Linked DNA regions of Homo sapiens. The protein of the gene in region 4 interacts with the protein of the main gene of each other region in a biochemical or structural test. Each region holds a gene or a part of one and is shown on either strand. Other genes may lie near its edges.

What was found.
Region 1: the proteins of UBE2D2 (region 4) and BIRC2 form a complex in vitro, tested with the Homo sapiens proteins (9 studies listed by BioGRID, with this or other methods).
Region 2: the proteins of UBE2D2 (region 4) and ANAPC11 form a complex in vitro, tested with the Homo sapiens proteins (11 studies listed by BioGRID).
Region 3: the proteins of UBE2D2 (region 4) and PRKN form a complex in vitro, tested with the Homo sapiens proteins (8 studies listed by BioGRID).

What each region holds. Positions count from the first base shown.
Region 1 is NC_000011.10:102,357,213-102,364,233, reverse strand, and holds part of BIRC2 (baculoviral IAP repeat-containing protein 2), read right to left. Parts: intron 1,339-7,021; coding exon 1,260-1,338; intron 567-1,259; coding exon 518-566; intron 1-517. UniProt on the Homo sapiens protein: Multi-functional protein which regulates not only caspases and apoptosis, but also modulates inflammatory signaling and immunity, mitogenic kinase signaling, and cell proliferation, as well as cell invasion and metastasis.
Region 2 is NC_000017.11:81,887,470-81,894,729, reverse strand, and holds the start of ANAPC11 (anaphase-promoting complex subunit 11), read right to left. Parts: upstream 3,008-7,260; 5' UTR 2,889-3,007; exon of another isoform or gene 2,867-2,888; intron 2,804-2,866; exon of another isoform or gene 2,624-2,803; intron 1,627-2,623; exon of another isoform or gene 1,543-1,626; intron 1,179-1,542; 5' UTR 1,116-1,178; intron 264-1,115; 5' UTR 253-263; coding exon 144-252; intron 1-143. Other genes in the region: ALYREF (THO complex subunit 4), read left to right, coding at 3,150-3,407, 3,910-4,041, 5,401-5,548, 6,147-6,210, 6,312-6,489, 6,585-6,599. UniProt on the Homo sapiens protein: Together with the cullin protein ANAPC2, constitutes the catalytic component of the anaphase promoting complex/cyclosome (APC/C), a cell cycle-regulated E3 ubiquitin ligase that controls progression through mitosis and the G1 phase of the cell cycle.
Region 3 is NC_000006.12:162,724,765-162,732,001, forward strand, and holds the start of PRKN (E3 ubiquitin-protein ligase parkin), read right to left. Parts: upstream 3,003-7,237; 5' UTR 2,905-3,002; coding exon 2,898-2,904; exon of another isoform or gene 2,778-2,897; intron 2,529-2,777; exon of another isoform or gene 2,368-2,528; intron 1-2,367. Other genes in the region: PACRG (parkin coregulated gene protein), read left to right, coding at 3,472-3,627. UniProt on the Homo sapiens protein: Functions within a multiprotein E3 ubiquitin ligase complex, catalyzing the covalent attachment of ubiquitin moieties onto substrate proteins. Substrates include SYT11 and VDAC1.
Region 4 is NC_000005.10:139,556,656-139,564,357, forward strand, and holds the start of UBE2D2 (ubiquitin-conjugating enzyme E2 D2), read left to right. Parts: upstream 1-4,683; 5' UTR 4,684-5,136; coding exon 5,137-5,160; intron 5,161-5,588; exon of another isoform or gene 5,589-5,752; intron 5,753-7,702.

The DNA.
Region 1 (7,021 bases), on a different chromosome or scaffold from region 4:
TCCACAGTGTCATTACACTCTCTCTCTCTCTCTCTCTCTCTCTCTCTGTGTGTGTGTGTATATATATATATATATATATATATATATATATATAATATTTATTAGCTGACTTCCCAGTATTTTTCCCTATGGCTTCAGAAACTCTTTTAAAAAATACATACTTTCATTCCTACCTTTTTTTTTGGAGATGGAGTTTCGCTCTGTTGCCCAGGATGGAGTGCAATGGCATAATCTCAGTTCACTGCAACCTCCACCTCCTGGGTTCAAGCAATTCTCCTGCCTCAGCCTCCCGAGTAGCTGAGACTACAGGCACATCACACCCGGCTAAGTTTTGTATTTTTAGTAGATGGAGTTTTACTATGTTGGCCAGGCTGGTCTCGAACTCCTGACCTCAGGTGATCTGTCAACCTCGGCCTCTCAAAGTGTTGGGATTACAGGCATGAGCCACTGCACCCAGCCTATTCCTAAAATTCTTATAAAAATTTACACTCTATACTTAAAATTATCTCATACATACTTGGTGGGTCAGCATTTTCTTCTCCAGTGGTATCTGAAGTTGACAACAGCTATGAAACAAGAGAAAAGTTAATAGGTAAAAGCAGATATCCCCAACAATCTGAAAAGAACAACACTAAAATAAGCTTACTTTAAGTAAATGTATATGTTCTTTTGAGAACTGAGTGATTTATGACCTTTGCTTTGCTTTCTTTTACCCTAATCACATAGATTTCCTTAAATTTCATGTCATCCCAAATTAGAAATCAAGTATTTCTCTAGTTTCAGGAAAGTAGAAAAATGTATCAGTGGTTTCTCATTTCATTTGGAAAATAAGATTTTAACTGGGTTACTCTCCAAGGGTCTCAGCTCCTAACAAGTTATTTTTTGTTTGTTTTTCTGGAAAACAGCAAAGAGACACTAAAGATCCTTCTCCAATCCCATCACAAATTTGTACAGTGGCAGCATAAATGATTTTTCAAAATAGTAAAAACAAAAAAACAATCTTTTTTAAAAAGCCCTCAAAAATCAAGTTGGTTACAAAAGTAAAAACCAAAGATGTCATTAACATGGATGAAAGTATGTACCTACAATTAATAAAAGAGAAATAAGCATAACTTCTAATATAGGTTGGTACAAAAGTGATCACGGTTTTGGCCATGACTTTCAATGGCAAAAATCATGATCACTTTTATACCAACCTAATAATATTTTTGTTATTATAAAGCAGAATTCAATGTTGTTAATTTTAAAAATGTATTTACCTGTTCAAGAAGATGAGGATATCTACCTTGAATCTCATCAACAAACTCTTGGCCTTTCATTCGTATCAAGAACTCACACCTAAAACATATGAGGAAAATTATTTTTTAAAATTGTTTCATATCAAATATAACCTGATCATTCTAGAAAAATGGCTTTCAAATCTTTCATTGTACTCCATAGTAAAAACATTTTACGTCACAACCCAGAACACATACATATCTAACAGGAACAAAATTATCATAAAACAATATACATCCTTCTGTGTGTTATATATCACGGTATTTTCTAATTCAATCCATTAACACAACAACAAAAAGAAAAGCGTCTGCACCTACAAAGGGGAACAAGTTGACTCCTGAAGAACACTATTATACACAATCTATTTTGTGCTTAAAGTGAACTACTTAACAGTTTCAGATACTATTAACTCAGTATTCCTAAAATGTGATCTTTCACAATACAATAACTGCTCATTTTTCTTCAATGTTCACTCTTCCATTACATTTGAGCCAGAATCCACTACCTTCCCTCCAAAAAATATGGAATCAAATATTTTTATCTATATATAATATGACAGTGTTTCTCAAATATTTGTTTTTAAACTGATAGGGCTTCTCAAAGATGTTCCAAGAAGTTCACATACCATCTATATCTATTCTATTCCTTTTGTTTCTTCAATAAATGATACTATACAACAGAATATTCATATGTTAAAAAAAAGGAACACTGACCTATGCCCATATTATATGCAAAAATAGTAAAAATGGATCATATACCTAAATATAAAACCAAAAACAATAAAACTTCTAGGAAAAAGCCTTGTCTTTATTTGTCTTTACATTGGGTAAAGAATTATTAGACAAAAGACCAAAAACATATTCCACAAAAGATAAAATTGATAAATTGACATCATCAAAATTGAAAACATCTGCTCTTCAAAAGACAATGTTAAAGAAATGAAAAGCCGCAGACTGAAAGTTTGCAAGAGTGACATCAGCAAGACAGCAGACTAGGAGACATCAGCCTTCTTCCACCCACAAAAAACAACAAACAGACAGCTATACACAAATACAGCTCTGGAAGAACTCACTAGCCCAATCAGCCTACAGCAATAAAGGGAAAAAAAAAAAAAAGGGAGAATAACCACACAGAAAGGACTGCTGGGAGATCTGCTTAGCAGAGACATCTGGAGATGGCTAAGAACAAGGGGTGAGGGCTACCTGTATCAGTCATGTGGTGAGTGCCATTACAGTCCTCAGTGGCAAAGACTGCTAGGCTCCTCCCCAGAGCAGGTCCCTGGAGACCTCCAATAACCCTCAAGATAGCCACAGACTTCCTGCAGGTTTCACAGTGAAGGACCCTATAGTGTTCATTGATGCCAACCCCAGTAGCCTACTTTGCAGAGGACACTGACAGCTTTCACCATTAAGGTAACCAGCACCCATTGCTGCTGTGAACCCCCTGGAGAGGGAGACACTACTGCACTCCTCACCCTGAAAAAAAGCAGCTCTTGCACTGCCCAGACAGTGCAGCCCCTAACCCCCACATATGCCCCAGACCCCAGAGCCACAGCTGCTTCACATGTACCTTCATGTAAGACCTTTGCTCTGTGGCTGCTCTAATCACACACTCTCCAGATCCCAGCTCTCTGGCTGCTCTGCACACCTGCACTCCGCACCCAACTCAAAGGCTGCTCTACGTGCACCCACATCTGAGGCACTAGAAGCACCACTGCTGCAGGCTAGTCAACATCCTGAACCCAAGACCCGCTGTCTTTCTGCAAACACTTGCACTCCAAACCTTGGCTCTGTAGCTGCTCCACAGGTGTCCACGCCATCAGAGACATCAGTGCTGCCACCTCCACCAACACAACAAGCCCAAAGCCAGAACCTGTGCCAAGAAGAATCCCCTTGGCCACAATGTCTCCCATGGGAGAAAAAGTGATGAAGAGGTCCCCAGCAGCCTCTGCCACTATAGACTAAAAAAAGCCTTGCTGCTGGTATGGATACCTGCAGCCTTGGATGTTGAGGACCCCTGCAATCCTCACTGACAATGATCTGGGCTAATGGAGCTGCATGGAGTTCACAATGCTGGGCCTTCCACAGAGCCAGAACCACCACACCTACTGGCTGGCGCCCTCACCCTCACCCTCACCCACAGGCAAAGATCTTTGCCCACAAAAAAAAAAACAAAAAAAACACACTAATCTGTAATGTCTAGAAGTAATTCGTCCATCAAATACACAGATAACACAAGGCCACAAGAAACAGAAAGAAAAAAAAAAAAAGAAACGTGACATTAGCAAAGAAACTCAGTAATTTTCCAGTAATCACCCACAAAGAAATGGAGATCTATGAACTAACAGATAAAGAATTCAAAATAATTGTTTCAAGCAAACTCAGTGAGCTACAAAAGAACACAGATAATGAAATAAAAAAATATATACAAACAAATGAGAAATTCAACACAGAGATAGGAATAATAAAAAGAAACAAATTCGGGAGCTGAAGAACATAACAACAAAAAATGCAATAGAGAGCATCAATAGCAGACCTGATCAAGCAGAAGAACCTGTGAACTCAAAGGCAGATCATGTGAAATTATCTAGTCAGAGGAGAAAAAAAGAAAAAAAAAAGAATAGTGGAGAAAGCCTACCTGAATTATAGGACACCATCAAGCAAAACAATATTTGCATTTTAAGAATTCAAGGCCAGGCACGATGGCTCACACCTGTAATCCAGCACTTTGGGAGGTTGAGGCGGGTGGATCACATGAAGTCAGGGGTTCAAGACCAGCCTGGCCAACATGGCAAAACCCCGTCTCTACTAAAAATACAAAAATTAGCTGGGCATGGTGGTGCACACCTGTAGTCCCAGCTACGTGGGAGGCTGAGGCAGGAGAATCACTTGAACCTGGGAGGTGGAGGTTGCAGTGAGCTGAGATCATGCCACTGCACTCCAGCCTGGGTGACAGAACAAGACACCATCAAAAAAAAAAACCCAAGAAAATGAAAAACAAACCCGAGAATTCAAGAAGGAAAAGAGAGAAAGGACAGAAAGCTGATTTAAAAAAAAAATGCTGAAAACTTCATAAATCTAGGGAAAGATATCCAGGTACAGGAAGTTCATAGGACCCCATAAAGATTCAACCCAAAGAAGACTTCACTGACACACATTATAATGAACTGGCAAAAATAGAAGATGAAAGAGAATTTTAAAACTGTAACAGAAAAGAAACTCATCTTCTACAAGAGAAACCCTATAAGACCACAAGTGGATTTCTCTGCAAAAACCTTGTAGGCCAGGAGAGAGTTGGATGATATATTCAAAGTGCTGAAAGACAAAACTACCAGACAAGAATATGTATCCCAGCAAAGCTGTCCTTCAGAAATGAAAGAGATATAAACAGTCCCAGACAAACAAAAGCTGAGGGAGTTTATCACCACTGGACGCGCCTTACAAGAAACGCTGAAGAGTTCTCCAAGCTGAAATGAAAGGACACTAATTAGCAACATGGAAACATATGAAAGTATGAAACTCACTGTTAAGATAAATATATAATCAAATTAATAATATACTAAATTTGTAATGGTCATGTGTAAATTACTTAATTCTAAAATACAGGTTTTTAAAAAAAAGTATTAAAAATAACTATAGCTTCAATAATTTTTTCATGAATACACAATATAAAATGCAAATAATGACATCAAAAACATAAAATATGTGCAGGAGGGTCTGAGTAACAGTACAGTTTTTTAATGCAATTGAAATTAAGTTGTTAGTGCTTGAAACAGACTACTATAACTATAAGATGTTCTATGTAAACCTCATGATAGCCACAAAGTAGAAACCAATAGTAGATGCACAAAAGATATAAAGGAATCAAAGCATACCACCACAGAAAATCATCTAAACACAAGGGAAGACAGCAAGAGAGGAAGAAACAAATAATCTGCCAAACAATCAGAAAACAATTACAAAATGACAGAAGTCTTTACCCATCAATAGTTACCTTGAATGTAAATGGGCCAAATTCTCCTATCAAAAGATAAAGAGCAGCTGAATGGATAAAGAAAACAAGATTCAGCTACAGGTTGTCTACAAGAGACTCAATTCACCTTTAAGCACATGCATGGGTATAGGAAAAAAGATATTCCATGCAAATGGAAACCAAAAGAGAGCAGAGGAAGCTAAAGTTTTATCAGATAGGGCAGACTTTACATCAAAAACTGTAAAAAGAGTCAGAGAAAGTAATTATATAATGAGAAAGGGGCCAATTCCACAAGAGGATACAGTATCTGTAAATATATATATGTACCCAACATCAGACCACCTAAATAAACAGAGAAAATATTAACAGATCTGAAGACATTAATAGATAGTAACACAATAATACTAGAAGACTTCAAAAATCCTACTTTCAATAATGGATGGGTCATCCAGACAGAAAATCAGTAAGGAAATATTGGACTTCAACTATACACTGGATCTAATGGATCTAACATACAGGTTGAATATTCCTTATCTGAAATGCTTGGGACTAGAAGTGTTTTGAATTTTACATTTTTTAGATTTGGGAATACCTGCCTTATGTTTACCAGCTGAGCATCCCTAATCCAAAAATGCAAAACCAAAAATGTTCCAAAGAGCATTTCCTTTCAGCATCATGTTGGTACTCAAAAAGTTTTAAATTTTGGAACATTTTGGATTTTGGATTTTTGGATTGGGGATACTCAACCTTTATACAGAACATTCCATCAAACAGCAGATAATACACATTCTTCTTAAGCACACAAGAAAAATTATCCAGCGTAGATCATGCAGCAGGTCACAAAACAAGACTCAACAAACTGAGGAAGACTGAAATCCTATCAAGTATCTTTTCAGACCACAATGGTATGTAACCAGAAATCAATAACAGAATGAAAGTTGGAAAGCTGACAACTATGTGGAAATTGAACAAAATACTCCTGAATAATCAATGGGTCAAAGAAGAAATCAAAAAGAAAATTTTAAAAAATCACAAGAAATATTAAAATTGAAATGCGACATAGCAAAATGTATAGAACAAATGCAGTTCTAAAAGGAAAGTTTATAGCAATAATCGCCTATATTTAAAAAAAATCTTAAATAAACACCGTAATTTTACATCTAAAGGAACTAGAAAAAGTTAGCAGAAGGAAATAACAAAATCTCATGAAATAGAGACTACAAAAACAATAGAAAAGACCACTAAAACTAAGAGCTGGATTTTGAAAAGATAAGTAAAATCAACAAAGCTTTAGTTTGACTAGTAAAAAGGAAGACGAAAATAAATAAAATCAAAACCAAGAGATGTTACCATTGATAACACAGAAACGCAAATGACCATAAGAGACTACCATGAACAATTATTCACCAAAAAACTGTATAACCTAGAAGAAATGGATGCATTCCTAGAAACTTGTAATTTATCAAGACTAAAATAAAGAAGAAATAGAAGATCTGAAAAGACTTATAACTAGTAAGGAGATTGAATCAGTAGTCATAACTCTTCTGACAAAGAAAAAGCCCAGGAACAGATGACCTCATAGCACAGTTCTATCAAGAAGAAGAAAGAAGAAGAAAGGAAGAGGAGGAGAAGAAGGAAGAGGAGGAGGAGGAGGAAAGAAGGAGGAAGAAGAAAGAAAAGGGAGGAGGAGGAAGAAGGAAGAAGAGGGAGGGAAGAGGGAGTAAGGAGGGAGGAGGGGGGAATACTTCCAAACTCATTTTATGAAGCCAAG
Region 2 (7,260 bases), on a different chromosome or scaffold from region 4:
AAAAAAAAAAAAAAGAAAATGAAACTGGGTATTTCGTGCAGGTATTTAACAGGAGCTACTGAGGCTAGTCCAGCAGGCAGCAGACAGCACAGAGGGGACACTCACAGTCGGGGCCGCTCAGACAGCATGGAGGGGACACTCACAGTCAGGGCAGCATCCGTTAAATGCCATCCTGCAGATGCCACAGTTCTCATCGTTGGCCACCCAGAGCCAAGTGGCCACGCCGTTCCAGCACTTAATCTTCACCTTCATGGCAGCAGAGCCTGCGGCGGAGGGAACAGGACGACTGGCTAAATTGAGTCTGCAGAGCTAGAACGTTTAGGCACCAACACAGGTATAAGCCTGCCACAGTGCAGTCCCAGCTACTCAGGGGGCCAAGGCAGGAAGATCATACCGGCCCAGGAGTCCGAACCCAGCCTGGGAAACATCGTGAGCCCTGTTTCTATTTTATTTTACTTTTATTTTTATTAATTTTTTTTTTTTGAGACAGAGTCTCACTCTGTCACCCAGGCTGTAGTGCAGTGGCATGATCTCAGCTCATTTCTTGTGCTTCGGCCTCCTGAGTAGCTGAGGCTATAGGCACGTGACTCCACGCCCGACTAATTTTTGTATTTTTAGTAGTCGAGGTTTCACCATGTAGGCCAGGCTGGTCTTGAACTCCTGGCCTCAAGCGATCTGCCACTGCGGCCTCCCAAAGTGCTGGGATTACAGGCGTGAACCCCTATGCCCTGCTATGAGCCCCGTTTCTATTAAAACAAATAACAAGTAAAGGGCTCTGGGCCCAGAGGGTCAGGGCTGCAGGGGAGCTACGGGAGAACAGCAAGCCCCAGCAGCAATCCGCTTTGTGGCTCACACCTGTGATCCCAGCACTCTGGGAGGCCAACTCGGGAGGATCGCCTGAGCTCAGGAGTTTGAGACCAGCCTGTGTAACACAGTGAGACTGAGTCTCTACCAAAAAAAAAAAAAAAAAAAAAGGAAAAAAAAGAACTATCTGTGAGGTTTCTTTAGCCATCTAGAGAAAGGGCACACTCTTCTCTCCAAGGGAAGGGACTCAGCTCCTTACGGACAAGGAGATCACATTTGGGAGCACAGGACAGTCAGGAGTTTGGTTTTACCTCACGTTGAGGATATCTTCAAAGATCTCAAATGGGCCTGGCCAACATGACGAAACTCCGTCTCTACAAAAAATACAAAAAAATTAGCCGCAGGTGGTGGCTCATGCTTGTAATCCCAGCACTTTGGGAGGCCGAGGAGGGTGGATCACTTGAGGTCAGGAGTTCGAGACCAACCTGGCCAACATGGTGAAACCCCATCTCTACCAAAAAAACAAAAATTAGAGGCCAGGCGTAGTGGCTCACGCCTGTAATCCCAGCACTTTGGGAGGCTGAGGCAGGCAGATCACAAGGTCAGGAGTTCAAGACCAGCCTGGCCAACATACTGAAACCCTGTCTCTACTAAAAATACAAAAAATTAGCCGGGTGTGGTGGTGGGCAACTGTAATCCCAGCTACTCGGGAGGGTGAGGCAAGAGAATCACTTGAACCTGGGAGGCGGAGGTTGCAGCGAGCTGAGATCACGCCAGCTCCCAGCTCTATTCGGGAAGCTGAGCCACAGGAATCACTTGGACCTGGGAGGCAGAGATTGCAGTGAGCCGAGATCGCACCACTGCACTCCAGCCTGGGCAACATAGTGGGACTGTCTCAAAAAAAAAAAAAAAAGCCAGCTGTGGTGGCGTGCACCAGCTGCCTGAGAGGCTGACGTGGGAGGATAGCTCGAGCCCAGGAGTTTGAGGCTGCAGTGAGCCAAGATCACACCACTGCACTCCACTCTGGGTGACGGAGGGAGACCCTGACTCAAAAAACAAAAACAAAAGCAAGTATCTCAAAACAACTTAAAATCCATGAAATGGGCTGGGTGTGGTGGCTCATGCCTGTAATCCCAGCACTTTGGGAGGCCAAGGCGGGCGGATCATCTGAGGTCAGGAGTTCAAGACCACCCTGGCCAACATGGCGAAACCCTGTCTCTATTAAAAATACAAACATTAGCCAGGTATGGTGGCACGTGCCTGTAGTCCCAGCTACTCGGGAGGCTGCCGCTGGAGACTCGCTTGAACCCAGGAGGCAGAGGTTGCAGTGAGCCGAGATCGCCCCACTGCACTCCAGCCTGGGCGACAGAATGAGACTGCCTCAAAAAAAAAAAAAAAAAATCAATGAAATGGCACACTGGTTTTCATTAATAAGTTGCAAAAATAATTTTTTTTTGGAGACAGGGTCTGGCTCTGTCGCCCAGGCTGGAGTGCAGTGGTGCCACCACGGCTCACTGCAGCCTCGACCTCCTGGGCTCAAGCAATCCTCCCACCTCGGCCTCCCAAGTAGCTGGTAGTACAGAAGTGCACCACCATGCCCAGCTCATTTTTTTTTTTAGAGATGGGGGTCTCACGATGTTGCCCCGGCTGGTCTCAAACTCCTGGGCTGAAGCGAACCTCTTGCCTCGGCCTCCCAAAGTGCTGGGATTACAGGCGTGAGGCCCGCGCCCGGCCCGCAAGAAAACTTGTAAAGGATATGACTGGCAAAATGTGACAGTGCAGACTTGGGGGGGCTGCAGGTGGAGACCAAAAAACCAACCCGCAGCTCGTCTGCAGCGGCTGCCGCCCGCCGAAGCCGCGCCCGCCGGACCCCACCGCGAGCCGAGCGCACAGTCCTGGGCGGGAGCGGAAACAAGGACTCCCAGCAGCTCCCAGGCACCCGCCGCGCCCGTAGCGCCCCCAGCGCCCCCAGCCCTGGCCGATCGGGCGGAGCGTGCGGGGAGGGAGGGGCGCGTAGGCTCCGCCTCCAACGGCCGCCGCCCCACCCCCTGCGCCCTCGCACCTTCGCCAACCTAATCACGCACCGCCCTACCCGCCCTTCCGTTGGCAGCGCCGGCGTCCGCGCGGGAAGGTATAAAAACGACCACAGTCGCGGCCCGACTCCCTCAACAGCGCCCGCCGAGTCTCGCACGCCAGTGCGCACGCGCCTCCCCGCCTCACCCCGTCCCGCGCGCGCAGCCGTCCGCCAGCGGCCAATCAGCAGCCGCTCCGAGGCCGTGGCACCGGAAGGCCTCACGCGGCGCCGGAAGTGACGTGCCGGCGTGCTGACGCGCGGGCTCGAGCCGATGCCCGATTCCGCGCCCGCCATGGCCGACAAAATGGACATGTCTCTGGACGACATCATTAAACTGAACCGGAGCCAGCGAGGCGGCCGGGGCGGGGGCCGGGGCCGCGGCCGGGCCGGCTCCCAGGGCGGCCGCGGCGGTGGGGCGCAGGCCGCCGCGCGAGTGAATCGAGGCGGCGGGCCCATCCGGAACCGGCCGGCCATCGCCCGCGGCGCGGCCGGCGGAGGCGGCAGGAACCGACCGGCGCCCTACAGCAGGGTGAGTGCGGAGGCCGGCCGCGCCGGAGAGTGGGAGGGGGCCAGCCGGGGCTGGGGCCGGGGCCGCTCGCGGCGGAGACCCGGGCCGGCGGGTGGATAAGGCTGGTGGAGCGGCCGCCCGGAGGTCCGGAGGGTGCGTGTGGGCGCGGAGGGGGTGGTGGGCGGGAGCGAGGTCGTTCTTTCGGGGTCCGGTCCCGGAGGCTGAGACCCTTCCCAGCTCTTTGTTTGTTCCGGACGTTGGGGCCTCGTGGCAGGAGAGGAGGGGACGCTGGGCGCGGCACAGGCGGCGGGAAGTTAGTCTAAGGGAACTGAAGTTGTGCGGCCGCGGTGGGACCGTGCGGCCTCGGGCTGGGGCAGCTGCAGCGCCGGAGGGAGCGCTGGCGGCCCCGTTTCGGCCGGATCCTCTCAGGCCGGGAAGAGGAAGGGTCCGGAGTAGCCGTGAGGGTCAGGAAAGCCCTGGACTGAGACTCACAGATCTGCTCTTGTTGCGGTTTTTTTTTCAGCCAAAACAACTTCCCGACAAGTGGCAGCACGATCTTTTCGACAGTGGCTTCGGCGGTGGTGCCGGCGTGGAGACAGGTGGGAAACTGCTGGTGTCCAATCTGGATTTTGGAGTCTCAGACGCCGATATTCAGGTAAGAGACGAGGGCTTCTCGGTGAGCCGTTCGCCCTGCACAGGACGGATCGTGATTTTGGGGATGTGGCCCTGAGTCCCCTTCCCGCCTTAGCGAAGGGAGCCCTCCCAGCTCTGAAGGGCTGCAGGACAGACCCAGTGCTAGTAAAGCCGGGGTCAGTGCGCAGGCAGGTGCGAGCCTAGCTGAGCCTGAGGAACTGCTGCTGTTAGTCTGAAGATGGGTTCTGTGAGTGAAAATCCCCTGCCAGGGCTTCCAGTTTCTAACAGGGACAAAGACTGACCAAATGTGAGTGGTTTTTGGCTGTTAGACCCAGCCCAGTTGCTTTTTAAATTTTGTGCCTGTCTTAGTGGGTTAATGTGAGAAAAAGAATCTTCTTTATGTATCTTGTGAAGCACAGGGAGTCTGTTTTTCTGGCTCTGTTTGCCTTGAGTACTGTCTTATAAAGACCTTGTACGCTGTGGTTTTATCACTCCCCACCGCCGTGTCCCGTCAGTGACATGACTCTCAAATCCATCTTTGGTTGAAGCTTTTCTTTTTTAAAAAAAGAAAAATTGAATCCCAATGGCATTTCAACTTGTTTTCTGGTTAAGAAATGACTTTTTGGGAATCAGTTTTGGAGATGGCTGGGCAGGGTTCAGTTGCCCACAGCCCAGCCATTTGCCTTGGGAGGACAGAGTAGGGCCAGTGAGCACTCACAGTGTCTCAACACTTTTTTTAAGGTGGTTTCTAGCATCCACTGGAAACCGCTTTTGGTGAACTCCAGTTCCCGCTGTGTGCCTGCGGCCGGAGTATCCCCACACTCTGGGTTCCCTCTCCAACTCCCAGCCTGCCTGAGGTCAGGGCAGTTTCCATGACAGCGCTTGACTTCAGACTTTGCCGCAGGCTTGAGTAGGAGGAGAGGGAAAGGTGAGCCAGAATCTGCCTTTGGGGGAGGGGCTGGGGTCAGGGCTCCCGAATCTACAGGCCCTTCAAGCTGGTCTGATATCGGACTGCTTCCCTTGCTCTTGATTTTGGCCTTTACCGTTTCTTGGAACAGCCCTTGGGTGTGTTGTACATTTTCCTTTGTTGAAGAGGATAGTGGCTTAATTTTGTGCCCGTTGCTAGTGGGCTTTGCAGCTTCCTCTACCTGCATCGTGGTACACGTGTCAGGTCCCCACAATGGCAGGAGCCCTCAGACCCAGGTGCTCTTGGAAGTTGCTGTCCCTCCTGCCCCGCCCTTCCCTCATTTCCCGTTAACCACTGTCCTGCCTCCCAGAGAACCACCCCCAAAGCAACTCACGCTTCCAGGGCCTGTCCCTGGGCCACCAGAAGGAACGCAGTTTTGTTGCTTTTCTGACAACTGCTCTCTGCAACTCCCAGGAACTCTTTGCTGAATTTGGAACGCTGAAGAAGGCGGCTGTGCACTATGATCGCTCTGGTCGCAGCTTAGGAACAGCAGACGTGCACTTTGAGCGGAAGGCAGATGCCCTGAAGGCCATGAAGCAGTACAACGGCGTCCCTCTGGATGGTGAGTCTGGGGGTGGACCCACGCTGACTGTGGGGCTTGTGGAGTTTGGGGCTGGCACCTGTCCAGGTAGGAATATGGGGTACCCCTGTGGCTGAGGACACTTTGCATTTGCCCCTTTGTCTCTCTCTTCCATCTGCCACCTCTCATGCTGCCCCACACATCTGGACCAACCTCTTGTGAACCCCCATCCAGCAAGCTACATCCCTCCCCTCCTTCAGCTCCTTCCGGAAGATTCACTTCTGTGAAGCCTTCTCAGAACCGCCATAGTACACCTCTGAGTGCGGGGCTGTAGTCGTAAAGACAAAGGTACCGGTTCTTCTTCGTCAGGTCACCCACACCTCTCCACCCACGAGCACCCCGATACCTCAGCGAGCAGCCCACCTAGTCTGGACTGAGAAGGAGTGAGGAGGTGTTGGTGGGGTTGCTTCCTTGCCATTTTGTTCTCCCACCAGTATCTCCAGGCCATTTCCCTTGTCGGGGGCATTTGAGACGCACAGAGGCCCTTTCCAGTGTTTGCATGGAGACCAGGGTGTGGCGCCAGCTGGGTGGGTTTCAGAGCCTCTCAATAGAACGTGCCTTCTCGTATTCTTTGCCGCAGGCCGCCCCATGAACATTCAGCTTGTCACGTCACAGATTGACGCACAGCGGAGGCCTGCACAGAGGTGACTTCCGGGGCCTCTGGGGAAGGGGATTGGCCGAGGGTGAGGCTGCGTCGCTCTTAGGGTCCTTCCGGGTGTGTGAACGGTTTCGTCTTCCTTGCTAGCGTAAACAGAGGTGGCATGACTAGAAACCGTGGCGCTGGAGGTTTTGGTGGTGGTGGAGGCACCCGGAGAGGCACCCGCGGAGGCGCCCGTGGAAGAGGCAGAGGTGCCGGCAGGAATTCAAAGCAGCAGCTTTCGGCAGAGGAGCTGGATGCCCAGCTGGACGCCTATAATGCGAGAGTGAGTCCCGGGGGAGCCAGCTGGGGGCCTGGTCAAAGCCGCAGTGGGGAGCAGGCCGCCTGTGAATGCAAGCCTCTTTCTCCTCTGTGTTTCAGATGGACACCAGTTAAACAGACCAGCAAATCCGCGTGCGGAACAGGACCCAGGCGTCTCCTCTTGCTCCCTGGTTGGGGGGCGGTGGCTGGGGCTGTGCGGCCAATGATGGATTTGTTTCTTTTATGTTTTAAAATAGGATTTAAAAACTCATGTAAAGGTTTTTTTTTTTTCTTTTTTTTTTTTTTTAATTCTGAAACAGACCTGTTTTGTACCGAGTTATTTTTGGGATAAATTTTACTGGTTGCTGTTGTGGAGAAGGTGGCGTTTCCACCTTTTCCATAATAAAATAGAAATGTGTGTAGAACTGGAACTGTTTGATTCGTCCCACTGTTGGAGTCCAGGCCTGGGCCAGGATTTTGGTGTCTGTCCAGCTGGGAGGGGGTGGGAGAACCTGAGTTGGGGATGGAGGGAGCAGCCCCATCTGGTGTTGGACACCTGAAGTTGGCATGGGTTGTGGGGGTGGCGGGGGGTCCCCGCTCCTGGAGGGCCGAAGCTGCCTGTCTTCTTTCTTATCTTCTTTCCTGCCTCACACCTAACACCTTCCTCTCTAACTCACCAGGTGGGAGGACACCTTTGCCCGGGAGCCACCTGTTGACCCTTGTGCCTGTGCCTCCAGGTGAGGGGAGGTTGGGGTGGGATGGCTGCCCTGTGTGCCGTCCACAGGCTTCCCACAGC
Region 3 (7,237 bases), on a different chromosome or scaffold from region 4:
TTACAGAATGAGTTTATAGACTCTTGTTCTCTGTAACTAGTGATTTCAAGTATTCTGTTTTATCTAAGTAGTACAACGAAGGTCATAAAAAGCCTGAGTAGGCCTGAACTACAGCTGCCTGGGCACCACAGAGAAGGTTATAGGATAAGCCTGTGCCCAGGCAAACCTAGAAAACGAACATCTGGGTTGCTTGGCAATGGTCATCTGCAATCCTGTCTTTGTCCTGCCTCTGTATCCCTGCTTTCACGCCACTGTAAGCTTGCTTCAAGCTAGCCCACCTCCGTTTGTGAAGTGTGTATAAAAGTCAAGTACTGTCTTTATTCTGGGCCCAGTCTTTTGGATGTGAGTCAGCTGGGCCTGAGTACACTCAATAAAGATTCTCCTGCTTCAACCTGAGGTCTCCCTCATACTCCCGAATCCCGCAACAAGGTGAGTGTAATAGTTAGAGAAAGCATAGGCCTGAAAGGAGCAAGCTTTGAGAAGCACTCTTACCTTTAACAGAAAATCCCAGATACATACTATTTACATTTTAGTGATCACTGGATAAAGTCTATAATGTCTTTCCTGGCTCTGAATTTTTGTCACAAAAACACAAAACCCATCACTCCAAGGCTTCCTTTTAATGGTTTTCACTTTCACCTACCTTTAGCACTGTTCACGACACCCAAATCCCAAACTGACCATTCAGATGTTTACTGAAATGTGGCTAATGAGGCTGGGCGTGGTGGTTCATGCCTGTAATCCCAGCACTTTCAGAGGCGAATGCGGGAGGATTGCTTGAGCCCAGGAGTTTGAGACCAGCCTGGGCAACATTATGAAACTCCATCTCTACAAAAACTATAACAAAAAATTGGCAGGCATGGTGGCACACACCTGTAGTCACAGCTACTCAGGAGGCTGAGATGGGAGGATCACTTGAGCCCAGGAGTTGGAGGCTGCAGTGAGCTGTGATGGTGCCACTGCACTCCGGCCTGGGTGACAGAGACAGAACCTGTCTCAAAAAGAGGAAAAAAAAAAAAAAAAGACGTGTGTCTAATTTCAGAATTAGGCAATGCAACTAGTTGAATATTTTATTGCACATTGTCCATGATCTTATATGTAAGGCACATTTCCTAGGGAAAGCAGGCATGGATTTAATCATTTATGTTGTACTGCACACTTATTTGCACTATGTAAAACCATGGCTGGAGTGAGAGAAATAACACTTTTAAAAACCAACCTTATATTCTCCATGTCATTACCAGTAATTGATAACTGTTTAATCATCAACTCCAAAGATATTTCTTCCTTATTGGAAGAATTCCAGATAAAACTAAACAGAACTGTCCAAACACATTTCATCCTAATAAAGTTATTTATATAATCACTTATTAGGTCATAACTTATAACTGAGTAATGTTCTTTAGATCTTAAGTGCTTGTCTTTATATAGCTTTACAATAAATTTGTTTCTCTTAAAATTATCTGTGCACTAGATTAAGTTAAATTAAAATAAAATGTATTTAACTGTCTTCAAAATAAGGTATAGGCTATTTTCTTCCTGTAGACTGACAGCACAGATATTGGAAAATCTCTTCTACTTGGTTTTCTGATTCAGTTCAAACTTGTGCTTGCAAGTGAATCTTACGTAAATGTCACCTAAAAAGAGCTCAAGAAGACTCATAAAAAATATTTTTTTCGTAATTTGATTAACTTTCAAGTCATTCACCAAAAGTCAGACCATGCTAGAAAGGGAAGAAAAGTTGGACAACATTCTTGTTTTACCACAAAGACCATGCCAGTTAGCTGGCTTGATTCTCCCACTGATGGGGAGAATGTTTACATTTTAACAATAACTTCACAAATAAACAGATGTAAGAAGTGTTTTCAGTGCATAAAGATCATATACTTTATAAATCCACCTCTCATCTTTCTTCTGGACAGACCACATCTGACTTCGAACGTACTTACTGCAATCAAAAGTGTTTTGTAAAGGACCCTCCTCAGGAATAAACAAGCTCACTAAACCCTCCATACATAACCTGGAGAAACCTCCACAATAATGAAACCCCATCTAGCACTGTTTTTCAAACATATGGTGCATTTCCATTAATTTTCAGGGATAGCCCCTAAAGTAACTTTTGGCTCAACAACCCTGGAAGAGAGGACCTTTGCTCATCTTACACATCAAGTGTTCATGAACAACTCTGATGCCACTAAGTTTCGTTCACAAACTTGCACCTCGGTCGTTCTTTTACAAAAAAAAAAAAGAAAGGTTATTTTGCAAAAGGCAATAGATTTAATCTTGGCTACTATTTACTCTTAATGTTTCTTTCATCTCAGCCCTCCAATGAGAAGTTTAAAAGGAAACATCCGAGGGAGCAAGTTTAGATCTATCTGGAGGAGTTTCTGTGGAGCCAGCCACCCTCACCAGGTGCCTTCCATTAGAGTTTAATGCTTTGCTGCGGTTTCCTGAAAGAGCCCCACAGAGAGTGGGTCTCGATGGGTCCTGAACCGCACCACAACCGGCCAGTGAGGTGAGGGGCGAAGGTGAGGGGCGGCGGCGGGGCGAAGGTGAGGGGCGGCGGCGGGGAGAAGGCTTCGGGACCCCACACGGTCCGGGGGACCGCGAACGAGGAGCGGGGGTGCGGGGCCGCCTGGCGTCCCCGTCGAGGCGGTCTTCATGAGAACGCTCAGAGCAGGGGCGGGCAGGCGAGGGCTTCGAACGCACACACTGGGGCCCCGGACCCGCGTCGCTGAGCTGGGGAGCCCGGCGGCGCGGGCCGGGGACGGCACGGGCACTTTGGCCCCGTCATTGACAGTTGGCACCGGGGGTCCTGGTCGGCCGAGGCGGGGCGTGGCGCCATACCGGGGCGTGGGGCGGCGCAGAGAGGCTGTACCTGGCAGGTACCCACGTACCTATCATGGTCACTGGGTAGGTGGCGGCTGCGGGCCAGGAACAGGCCCATGCGCGCAGCGGCGCCAGCCGCGCCTCCCACCAGCGGCTCTCCTGGGTTAAATCCTCCAGGCCTCCCCGCCCCCGCGCCCGGCCCTAGGAATGCGCACGCGCGGAGGGCGCGGCCCAGGGCCTGCTGGGAGTCGTAGTTCTAACGCGTAGTTTCTCCTCACGCCTCCTGCCCCCAGCCCCCCACCGCCGCCCTTTCCGGCTTCAGGCCCAGCAATCTTACGTCACCGGGGGGCGGGGCTATGCGCCCGCCGTGTTGACCAGTCGCTTAGCAACCGGGAGGCTTACCTTTGGAAGCTTGTTGCAGCTCTAGCCAAGGTCCTGCCCTCTTCCCGCCCCGCCCCTAGGGTCCAGCTCCCTTCACCTAGGAGCTGCCAAACATCTGGATCAACCTGGGCACTACGAGGGGTTGAATTTCTACCATTATCGCGCCTTTTGATATTTTTTTCCAGACCTCCTGCTCACATCCGTAAAGCCCACTGATTCTTTTACTACACTTTTTATGAGAACAAGACATTTTCTAGGAAGATGGTGGCAGAAAAAGAGACCCTGAGCTTAAACAAATGCCCAGACAAGATGCCGAAGAGGACCAAGCTGCTGGCACAACAGCCGCTCCCGGTGCACCAGCCTCACTCTCTGGTTTCTGAGGGTTTCACAGTCAAAGCCATGATGAAAAACTCAGTCGTAAGTGATCTTCCTGAATTAAATGCACTCGCTCTGAATCAGGGGACACGAGATTTACAGAGGTTGGCCAGCCTTAGGATGGACTCTGAGCCATGTCCTGGGTGGTCTTTGCCAAAAAAGGCAGTTACTTGGCAAGTAGCAAACGGTGCCCCACAGTGTGTGGGGGGCAGGCTAGGTTGTTAGAATCTTGGGCAAGTGATGTACTCTGCCCATTTATAAGCACCTTCCTGATAACTTATGGTTTCTGGACCGCCCAAAATTACTCTTAAGCTATTTACACGAGGAAAAAAGATCCCCTTTACTTACTAATTCCTAACTAGCCCCACTCAGCAAAGGGCCTTATAGAAGGTGAGTTCTTAGAAATCATAAACTCTTGCAAAATTTAACATGAGCTGATATACAACCGGGAACATAAACTCATGAAATAATCTATAATGAGAAATTTCTTCACTTCAACCTAGGAAATTTTAGAATATCCTAGCATTTGCTCTAACAACACTTGTCTCTTACAAAATGATGTCATCTTCTTAGAGTACTGAAAGCCAACTTAATATGAACACTGTTTCCTGACAGGCCTTTTAAGATGATGTGCTTTAAACAATACAAGCTTTAGCTCATATATCTCTGCTACTAATACAATTCATATTTCATCTCTATTATTTGTAGTAATAAAAATAAAATATTCTAAGTATCATTAGAGAAAAAAGATTAAAAATATATACAAATATTTTAGCTGTCTGCATGATAGTATATATTTTTTAAACCTTCCTATTTGTTAAATAGCTTTACACTTGGTATGCTAAGACAGATTTTGCTACTGAGTAAGCAACTGTCTGGGAATGAGGCATTAAATAATAAATGCATCTTTCAAATTTGTGTAATTTACACCCTGGGAAGATCTGAGTTATTACATGGCAATTCATTATGTTAAATGAATAGTGTTGTTTTCCAGTGTCACATTATTTCCTTTGCTTATAGGTTGCAAACCTGATAACTTATTCCTAAACGACATACTTAAAATACATGAATGAAACAGATTACCTATAGACCTCTAGGCCAGGTTCCCATGTGGCTATGCAAAACGATATCCTAATTATTGGGAAGTGTGTCAGGTGATTTACAGTAGTTAAAATTCTTGGAAATGGACTAAAATTCTGCTTGTTGTAACTAATTCTTTTTCATGGAATTTCACATAAATTGGTTCTCCTAGGAGTCAAGATGATGCATTTATCAGCAATACCATAACCATTCAGGTTAATCATTTAGTTTTTCTTCTACACAATATTTACAATTTTGATGTTTTTTAATGTTATACTTTAATTTTTTTTTTACTGGTTGGGGTTCTTTTCTGTTTTTTCCTAAACCTGTATTCATAATTCTTGTATCATATTAATTCTTTAATATAATCTTACACCTAAAGAGATAGTTCTGCAAAATCTGATGTTTCTGTATTGCCAAATGTAATAAGTATGCCTACATGACTTAAAAAAAACATTGATTATGAAGCAGGCTTCTTTATAAACAACTTAATTGAGATCCATTATCTTCTCTTTTTATGTTCTAAAGGAAAATCTTGTACTAGCAATACCTCTCTTGCCATTGGAAATCGTAATTCTTAAATGCAAACATTATTTATCCATTCATCTATTTATTCAGTCAACAACTGTCTCTCTTTTTTTTTTTTTTAATACCCAGTGTTTGCTAAGCACAGTTCTGGGGATTTGGGATCAGCAAAGCAAAGTCCCTGCCCTTAGTACTCCGAGGAAAACCAAAATAACAACATTCAAATCTTGATAAAAGAAGGCTGGACAATACCGTTTATACAAAATAACTTCAGTGGTACAGGAAATAAAAATTTTCAATTTCATAACCAATATTTACATTTCACCATTTTTATCTTTAGCAGTATAGACTTCTCAGCATTATAAGGTGAAAATGTCCTCATCTCTTTCTGAAGGTGTATTTTGATTCAGGACGTGTATGCCAATTTCCAGCTTTTCTTAATTGCAACCTCATGCTCCAAGAGCCAACACCCTCCAAACCACTTTTCCAGTTAGATAAGTCAACATTCCAATGCTCTTCCACCTAAAACATGAAGAACTGTATATATCATAAGGAGTTATACAGAGACTCCTGATATTTCTCTGAGTGCGATAGTGATACAAGTACATAAACTTGATAATAAATATGTTTCATCAAATGGGCTGTGCAAGCAGAAATGCTTATTTAAACAATCTGGATATGAGAGTGCAAGATTATTGAAAAAATAATGATAAATGTAAATGGCAAAATTTTTAAAATCTCAATGTCAAATATTTTTCTTCAATAGAAACTAGACTTTCTTTCCATGAAATTTTTGTTGCATTCTATAAGAAAACAAGCATCACAAAAGCCCTGCAATGAAATAATATTCAAATTCACATTTTTATAGTGCTTGCCTATAAAGAGATATGAGATACACAACTTGAAGATTTCATAGTTCATTTTCCTTTAAAAGTCTTGTTTGGGGTGTGATAGAGCCCATGACCAGAAACTAGTAACCCAGTATTTTGTTGTCTTTATCTTGTCAGATACTTTCTGTGCTGAACAAGCTTATCACGAAGCAAGTTAGAAAATCGACCCAGGGTTATGGTGACAGAGAAGTTGAGTTCAGCCTAAGCTTTCTATTACAGCTTTCCTTCTCAAAAGACTATAGATGCTTTATGCTCAAAGTTTAGGGGAATGGAATAAATAATTTTTTTAATATTAAAGGTTGAGTATTCCTATTCCAAAAGTCTGAAACCTGAAGTGGTCCAAAATACAAAACTTTTTGAGTGTTGACATTACACTCAAAGAAAACTCTTTTGAGCATTTTGGATTTCAGATTTTCAGAACTGGCGTGACCATCAGTATATAATACAGATATAGTCAGCTCTTTGTACAGATTCTGCCTCCATGGATTCAACTAACCTTGGATTGAAATGTTTGGGATAAAAATTTTATCTGTATTGAACATGTACAGACTTTTTTTTTTGAGTCATTATTCCCTAAACAATAGAGCATAGCAACTATTTATGGAGCATTTATATTGTTTTAGATATTATAAGTAATATAGACATGATTTAAAGTATATAGGTAGAAATGTGTAGGTTACATACAAATACTACGCCATGTTATATCAGGGACTTGAGCATCTGAAGATTTTGGTATCTGCAGGAGGTCCTGGAAACAATTCCTCATGGAGACTGAGGGATGACTGTATTCCAAATTTGAACAAAAAACAAAAACAAATCCAAAACACTTCTGGTCCCAAGCATTTCAGATAAGGGATAGTTCAACCTATACTTTACATGTATAGTGTGTTTTATATTTACCAATCATGTGCTCATTTAACACGTAGTGGTAATCATCAATATTTATAAATTATATATTAAAATATTAATTTGGCTTCTGTAACACTGACCAAATAACAATAGCTTAATTAAGATGGAAGTTGTTTCTCTCATAATAGAAGTTCAATTTTGTAGGCAATCCCAGGAGGTTGGGCAGCATTCCCCATGAGGCAGGTGCAGGGGCATAGGAGCATGTTTGTTCTTTGCATCCTGTAAAATGACACCTGAGACAAGGGGGG
Region 4 (7,702 bases):
TTAGGTTGCTGCAAAAGTAATGGCAGTTTTGCCCATTAACCTAATAAAAGGAAAAATAAAAGGATATTATGAGTAACTTTATTCTAATAAATTGGACAACATAAATGAACAAATTCCTTGAAAAACACAAATTATCACAATTGACACAAGAAGAAAAAGAAAATCTGAATAGTTCCATACTTTTTTTTTTTTTTTCTGCAACATAGTCTTGCTTTGTCGCCCAGGCTGGAGTGCAGTGGCGCAATCTCGTCTCACTGCAACCTCTGCCTCCCGGGTTCAAGCAATTCTCCTGCCTCAGCCTCCTGAGTAGCTGGGATTACAGGCGCTCACCACCATGCCCAGCTAATTTTTGTATTTTTAGTAGAGACGGGGTTTCATCATGTTGGCCAGGCTGGTCTTGAACTCCTGACCTTGTGATCTGCCTGCCTCGGCCTCCCAAAGTGCTGGGATTACAGGTATGAGTCACTGTGCCCAGCCAACTTTTATTTCTTTTTTGAGACTGAGTTTTGCTCTTGTTGCCCAGGCTGGAGTGCAATGGTGCAATCTCGACTCACTGCAACCTCCGCCTCCCGGGTTCAAGTGATTCTCCTGCCTCAGCCTCCCAAGTAGCTGGGATTAAAGGCAGCACCACCACGCCTGGCTAATTTTGTATTTTTTTTTAGTAGAGACATGTTTCACCATGTTGGCCAGGTCAGTCTTGAACTCCTGACCTCAGGTGATTCACCAGCCTCGGCTTCCCCAAGTGCTGAACCTTGATATGAAAATTTGGTGAAGATATTACAAAAAAAGAAAATTATAAATCAATATCCCAGCTGGACGCAATGGCTCACACCTGCAATCCCAGCAGTTTGGGAGGCCGAGGCGGGCAGATCATCTGAGGTCTGGAGTTCGAGACCAGCCTGGCCTACATGGTGAAACCCTGTCTCTACTAAAAAATACAAAAATTAGCCAGGCGTTGTGGTGCACACCTGTATCCCAGCTACTTGGGAGGCTAAGGCAGGAGAATCACTTGAACCCGGAGACGGAGACTGCAGTGAGCCGAGATCGCACCACTGCACTCCAGGCTCGGCAATAGAGTGAGAGTCTGTCTCAATAAATAAATAAACAAACAAACCAATATCCCTCATGAACACAGATGCAAAAATCTGCATATCTGTTAATGCTGCAGTTTCATTTCTAGGAGTTTATCCTAAGGCACTCTTAGAGCTGTATAAAGATTAAGAGTCTGTTTATCAAGAAGAGTCATATGATTTTTTTTAAAAAAAGATCCTGTTTCTACAAAAAATAAATAAAAATTAGCCAGGCATGGTGGCTCCAGCTTATAGTTCCAGCTACTCAGCGGGCTGAAGTGGGAAGATCACTTGAGCCAGGAGTTGGAGGCTGACGTGTACCACTGCACTCCAGCCTGAGGGAGAGACAGTGACCCCATCTCAAGAAAAAAAAAGAAAAAAGATGAACTATAGGATAGCTAGGATATTTACCACAGCATTATTTTAATAGTAAAAATGGGAAACAAATGTTCCCCAAAATGTGACCAGTTAAATAAATATGGTACATTTATATGCTAGAATACAAAGCCATTAAAATAAGGTAGAAATATTTGAAACAGGAAAATTCACGATATATTGTTTATTTTCTTATTTGTTTTTTGAGACAGAGTCTTGCTCTGTTGCCCAGACTGGAGTGCAGTGGCGCGATCTCAGCTCACTGCAAGCTCTGCTTCCCGGGTTCACGCCATTCTCCTGCCTCAGCCTCCTGAGTAGCTGGGACTACAGGCGCCCGCCAACCAAGCCCGGCTAATTTTTTGTATTTTTGGTAGAGACGGGGTTTCACCGTGTTAGCCTGGATGGTCTTGATCTCCTGACCTCGTGATCCGCCCGCCTCGGCCTCCCAAAGTGTTGGGATTACAGGCGTGAGCCACCGCGCCCAGCCAATATATTGTTTATTTTCAAGGTAGATTACCAAACAGTATTATGCAATGACCCCACATTTTTCAAAGAAAAATATGTATTGATATTTATATGTAAGGGAAAAAAAGACTAGAAGGACATTAACCAAATGTCAAAAGTGGTTAATTATTGGATGATGAGAGTGTGGGTGACTTTTATTTCCTTCCTTTACTTATAGGTATGTCTTACAACAAATACATATTGCTTTTTTTTTAAGAGAGGATCTTGCTCTTTCACCACACCTGAGGTGCAGTGGAACCACCACGGCTCACTGCAGTTTTGACCACCCAGGCTCAAGCTATCCTCCCCACCTCAGCCTCCCAAGTAGCTGGGACCACAGGTGCGTGCTACCATACCTGGCTAATTTTTACAATCTTCTGTAGAGATGAAGTCTCTATATTGCCCAGGCTGGTCTGGAACTCCTGAGTTCAAGTGATCTTCCCGCCTCAGCTTCCCAAATTACTGAGATTACAGGCGTGTCCAGGAGCTTTTCTAATACAAAAGTTATTACTGAGAATAACTTTAAAAAAAAAATCTGTCGGCCGGGCGCGGTGGCTCACGCCTGTAATCCCAGCACTTTGGGAGGCCGAGGCGGGCGGATCACGAGGTCAGGAGATTGAGACCATCCTGGATAACAAGGTGAAATCCCGTTTCTACTAAAAATACAAAAAAATTACCCGGGCGTGCTTGCAGGTGCCTGTAGTCCCAGCTACTCGGGAGGCTGAGGCGGGAGAATGGCCTGAACCCGGGAGAAGAGCTTGCAGTGAGCCGAGATAGCGTCACCGCACTCCAGCCTGGGCGACAGAGTGAGACTCCGTCTCAAAAAAAAAAAAAAAGAAATCTGTCCAGTGGAGATTTTTGTACCCCTCCCATCACATTTCTTAGGAAGAAAATATCTGGGGCTGTGAGATGTTCCATTTTACCCTCAACCTCAACTATACCCACCCTGAACCACTGGATACAATTTTCTCTCACTGGGTGCACGGTGCTTCTGTCCTAATGGTCCAACCTTCTCAGTAGGTGAGGCAGTATGAGCTTTGCCACTCACCTACTGTGTGGCTTTTGGCAAGATCCTTCCCTTAGTTGGGCTCCAGTTTTTTCTTCTCTATAAATTCAGGAGCTAGAATCAATGATCTGCAAGGTCCTTTCTGGATGTAGCGAAAAGGAGACATTTAGAATCAGAAAACGCCAGGGGTAGATTTCAGAATGTGGGCATTACCTCCCAGCAAAATATTCTTTACTATTCTCCTGTGTAAGGCCTCTAGCCCTGGCTTGGCTCCGTATCTCACACCAGTCATGGTGTAGGGCTGGGCACAGGGTAGGTGCTCAGTGATTTAGCTTTTTGTCTCCATCTCCTAAAAAACAATTCCAAATATTCTAGGTTTGATTTTCAGCGGACCCTCCTGATGGGTATCTGGAGCACGAGGTTGGTTTTTTTTTTTTTTTTGGAGATGGAGTTTTGCTCGTCGCCCAGGCTGGAGTGCAATGGCGTGCTCTCGGCTCACTGCAACCTCTGCCTCCTGGGTTCCAGCGATTCTCCTGCCTCAGCCTCCCCAGTAGCTGGGTTTACAGGAACCTGCCACCACTCTCGGCTATTTTTTTTTTTTTTTTTTGAGACGCATTCTTGCTGTTGCCTAGGCTGGAGTGAACTGGCGTGATCTCGGCTCACGGCAACCTCCGCCTCCCGGATTCAAGCGATTCTCCTGCCTCAGCCTCCCGAGTAGCTGGGACTACAGGCGCCTGCCACCATGCCCGGGTAATTTTTGTATATTTAGTACAGAAGGGGTTTCACTGTGTTGGCCAGGCTGGTCTCGAATTCCTGACCTCGTGATCCGCCTGCCTTGGCCTCCCAAAGTGCTGGGATTACAGGCGTGAGTGACCGTGCCCGGCCTAATTTTTGTATTTTTAGTAGAGATGGGGTTTCACCATGTTGGCCAGGCTGGTCTCGAACTCTTGACCTCAGGTGATGCGCCAGCCTCAGCCTCCCAAAGTGCTGAGATTACAGGGGTGAGTCACCGCGCCCAGCCGTTGGTTTTAACTATTTGGGGCACACACTGTGATTTTTTTTCTGACGCAGCTGGTACAGTGCTTGCTTGTAACAATTTGCAATTCACTAAGCTGAGCAGAGTCTGGACACCTCGAAGGCACACATACATGCCAGTGGCTGAGAACACAACATTCAAATCCTCTCCATCTGGGGCCTTGGTCCGGAAGGCCAATCTCACTGCAACCCGAGCGGCTATGAGACATCTCCCTCGTGGCAGGTGCCCGAGCTGTAGCCACGCGGCCTCTGGAAAGAGATGTGCTAAGTCCCAGGACTTCAGAAGAGCTCTGTGACCTTGGCCAAGTCCCTTCCTCCTTCAGGAGCGCTGCAGTGGGCCTAAGTGCCTCCTCCCGGGACTAGTACGGGGACGGTCGTGAGATCTGGACAACATTCGCCTTTTAATATTTATTGATCTTTTGTGACACGCGCGTGGGTTTCCATCAGCAATGAAGTCAACGGTCGCGGCGCTGGAGCCTGCAGAACTCGCGCTCTAGATCTCGCGAGATCTCCGCCCAGGGCTTCGCAGCGTCACGCCCTCCGGGGCCGTGGCGGCGACGGCGGTGCGTAGCTTACTCACAGGGGCGGCCCGTATCCCTCCGCCGCCGGCGCGGCTCGGCCCTCCCTCCCCTGGCCCGCCAATCCCCGCGCCTCCCGACCTGCCCCTCGGTCGGGCCCACCCCGTGCTCCGACGGCCCCACCCCGGCGGCGCAGCCCGCCCGCCCGCGCGTCCCTCGGTCCACCTGCAGCAGGGAGGAAGACAGGCAATCCCTCCGGCTGTCCGACCAAGAGAGGCCGGCCGAGCCCGAGGCTTGGGCTTTTGCTTTCTGGCGGAGGGATCTGCGGCGGTTTAGGAGGCGGCGCTGATCCTGGGAGGAAGAGGCAGCTACGGCGGCGGCGGCGGTGGCGGCTAGGGCGGCGGCGAATAAAGGGGCCGCCGCCGGGTGATGCGGTGACCGCTGCGGCAGGCCCAGGAGCTGAGTGGGCCCCGGCCCTCAGCCCGTCCCGCCGGACCCGCTTTCCTCAACTCTCCATCTTCTCCTGCCGACCGAGATCGCCGAGGCGGCCTCAGGCTCCCTAGCCCCTTCCCCGTCCCTTCCCCGCCCCCGTCCCCGCCCCGGGGGCCGCCGCCACCCGCCTCCCACCATGGCTCTGAAGAGAATCCACAAGGTAAGCGGCCGGAGGTCGGCTGCGCTGCTGGCCAGCTGAGCAGGCTGCGGCCTGCACTTCCCGCCGTAGTCTCCGTCGGGCTCGCGGCCTCCTTGGATCTTGCTGCCGGTGCTGGCCCCTCGGGGCGGCCTCCATACCCCACTCCCAGTGATGGCGCCCGTGGAGGCCCCGGCGCGCAGCCCGCGCTTAGGCCGGAGGTGCTCTCGCGGCCTCAGCGTTCCTCCCCGGCTGCCCTTCCAGGCCCGCATGGTGTGGACTCTTAGGGCTTCTCTCCAGTCTGGGACTGCCGCTGCACTTGAGGGCCATTGTCGGGCCAGGATGGCGGGGTTGGGGCCGAGGGGGGCGCTGGGGCGTTGGGCGGCCCCTTCGACAGAGGTCGAAAGGGCTTCTCGCCCCATTTCTGTTCCCTCCTCCCACACCTGCCCTAGCTCCCTCCACAAAACCGCCTGAGCTCGGGCTGACAGAGGAAGCCGTTTTGCCCGATCCACAAGTATATCCTGAGTTCACTTACCTCTTGGGTGGCAGCACACATCGGTCCACCCTGCTTGTCCAGAAACTGTTAAGAGTTGGAAGTTCAGAAGAAAAAAAAAAGGTGACTTAATGAGGGAGGAGGGAAGTAGAGGGAGAATCATTTTATTCCTTGAGGTTGCTGTATGTAGTTAGAAACTAACACTTCCGTTTTGCAGGATTGGATCTAATAGAAAAGCTGTACATTGGCAAAGGTAGAGGTAGAAACCTGAACATTGAAAACCACCAGAGAAATTATACAAAAGTTCCTTTCACAGCCTCTTCGCAAAATGGACTTGACGCTATTAGGTGATATGTTTACCGAGACTCTTAACTGGGAAGGGGTTTTACTAGATTTTGTATTAAAAAGGATTTCTTTGCTCTTTAAAGTGAAGGGTTATTTAGTTATCAATAAGGAGGTTTTCCTAATAATACATCTAGACTATAAGATTGGCTTAAAATTTATTTTTTTTCCCTTTCTGATGTTGTAACCTCTTAGTGCCACTTTCATGTTTTTTTTCTTAGAAGTAGGGAGGCACCACTATTAATTTCTGTTTGGTGTTTCACTTGGCTACTCAGATTGGCTATATTAAACCGGTAGCTACTTTTTTCTTCAATACATCTTTTTCCTTTTAGTGGAGAACGGGGTCTTGCCGTGTTGTCCAGGCTGGTGTGGAACTCCTGGGCTCAAGCTAGCCTCCTGTCTCTGCCTCCCTTAAGTGTTGGAATTACAGGCATCAATCAGCCACTGCACACGGCCTATACCTGTAGCTACTTAGAAGTAGGTACTGGGGTTATCCATTCTGAATGATGGGATGGGGATGCAAGAGGAAGAGAACCAGTTTTTAGCTTGTCTTAAACTAAGTCAGAATACAGATTGATGATTTAAACACCTCAGCTCAGCGGTTGGTCCTCATTTCATTTTTGCTCAAAGACAGTGTGGAATCAGTCCCATTGGTTACTATAATTAGGTTAGCTCCTTAACTTCTTTTGACTCTGATTTCTAACAAATGAAGAAGGGCAGATTTTAGACAATAAATCTTGTACTAAAATGAAATGGTATTTGTTAAATACCATAAAGAAGCTTGAACCTTAAGCAAAGATGTCTTAAAGAACCGTTTAAGGGGCAGGGGAGCACACTGAGGAGTAGTCATCCAAAAAAAATATATACATATGTATTTTAAAGGCTTTTAGGAATTGCTAGGTCCTTATAGAATCTAACTGGGAAGTTATCAAATACCTGTAGAAGCTTGTCCTCTTATTTTATAACCTGAGAAAGAGCAAGTGGGTATAATGTGTAATAATTTACAGATAAAGAAATGTAGACCTGCCGGGCGCGGTGGCTCACGCCTGTAATCCCAGCACTTTGGGAGGCTGAGGTGGGTGGATCACGAGATCAGGAGATCGAGGCCATCCTGGCTAACACGGTGAAACCCCGTCTCTGCTAAAATATACAAAAAAAACTAGCCGGGCTTGGTGGCGGGTTCCTGTAGTCCCAGCTACTCTGGAGGCTGAGGCAGGAGAATGACGTGAACCGGGGAGGCGGAGCTTGCAGTGAGCCGAGATCGCGCCACTGCACTCCAGCCTGGGCCACAGGCGAGACTCCCTTTCAAAAAAAAAAGAAATGTAGACTTTAATCTCTACATTGAATTATATGTGTAACGGACTTTTTCAGAGAGGGAACTATCTCTTTGACACAAAACATACGTTTTAATTAATAATACTTGCTCTGGTAATATAGTTTCTTATGAGTTGCTACATATTTTCTAGAATAGATTTTCCTTAAAATATGCCTTTGTAAGATTTTTTTAATAAAATCAAGTTTAGAAATAATTTGAACTTTTTTGGGGGATAGAGTTTCAGTCTTGTCGCCCAGGCTGGAATGCAATGGCACGATCTCAGCTCACCGCAACCTCCACCTCCTGGGTTCAAGTGATTTTTCTGCTTCAGCCTCCCGAGTAGCTGGGATTACAGGCACGCACCACCACACCTGTCTAATTTTTGTGTTTTTAGTAGAAACGGGGTTTCACCATGT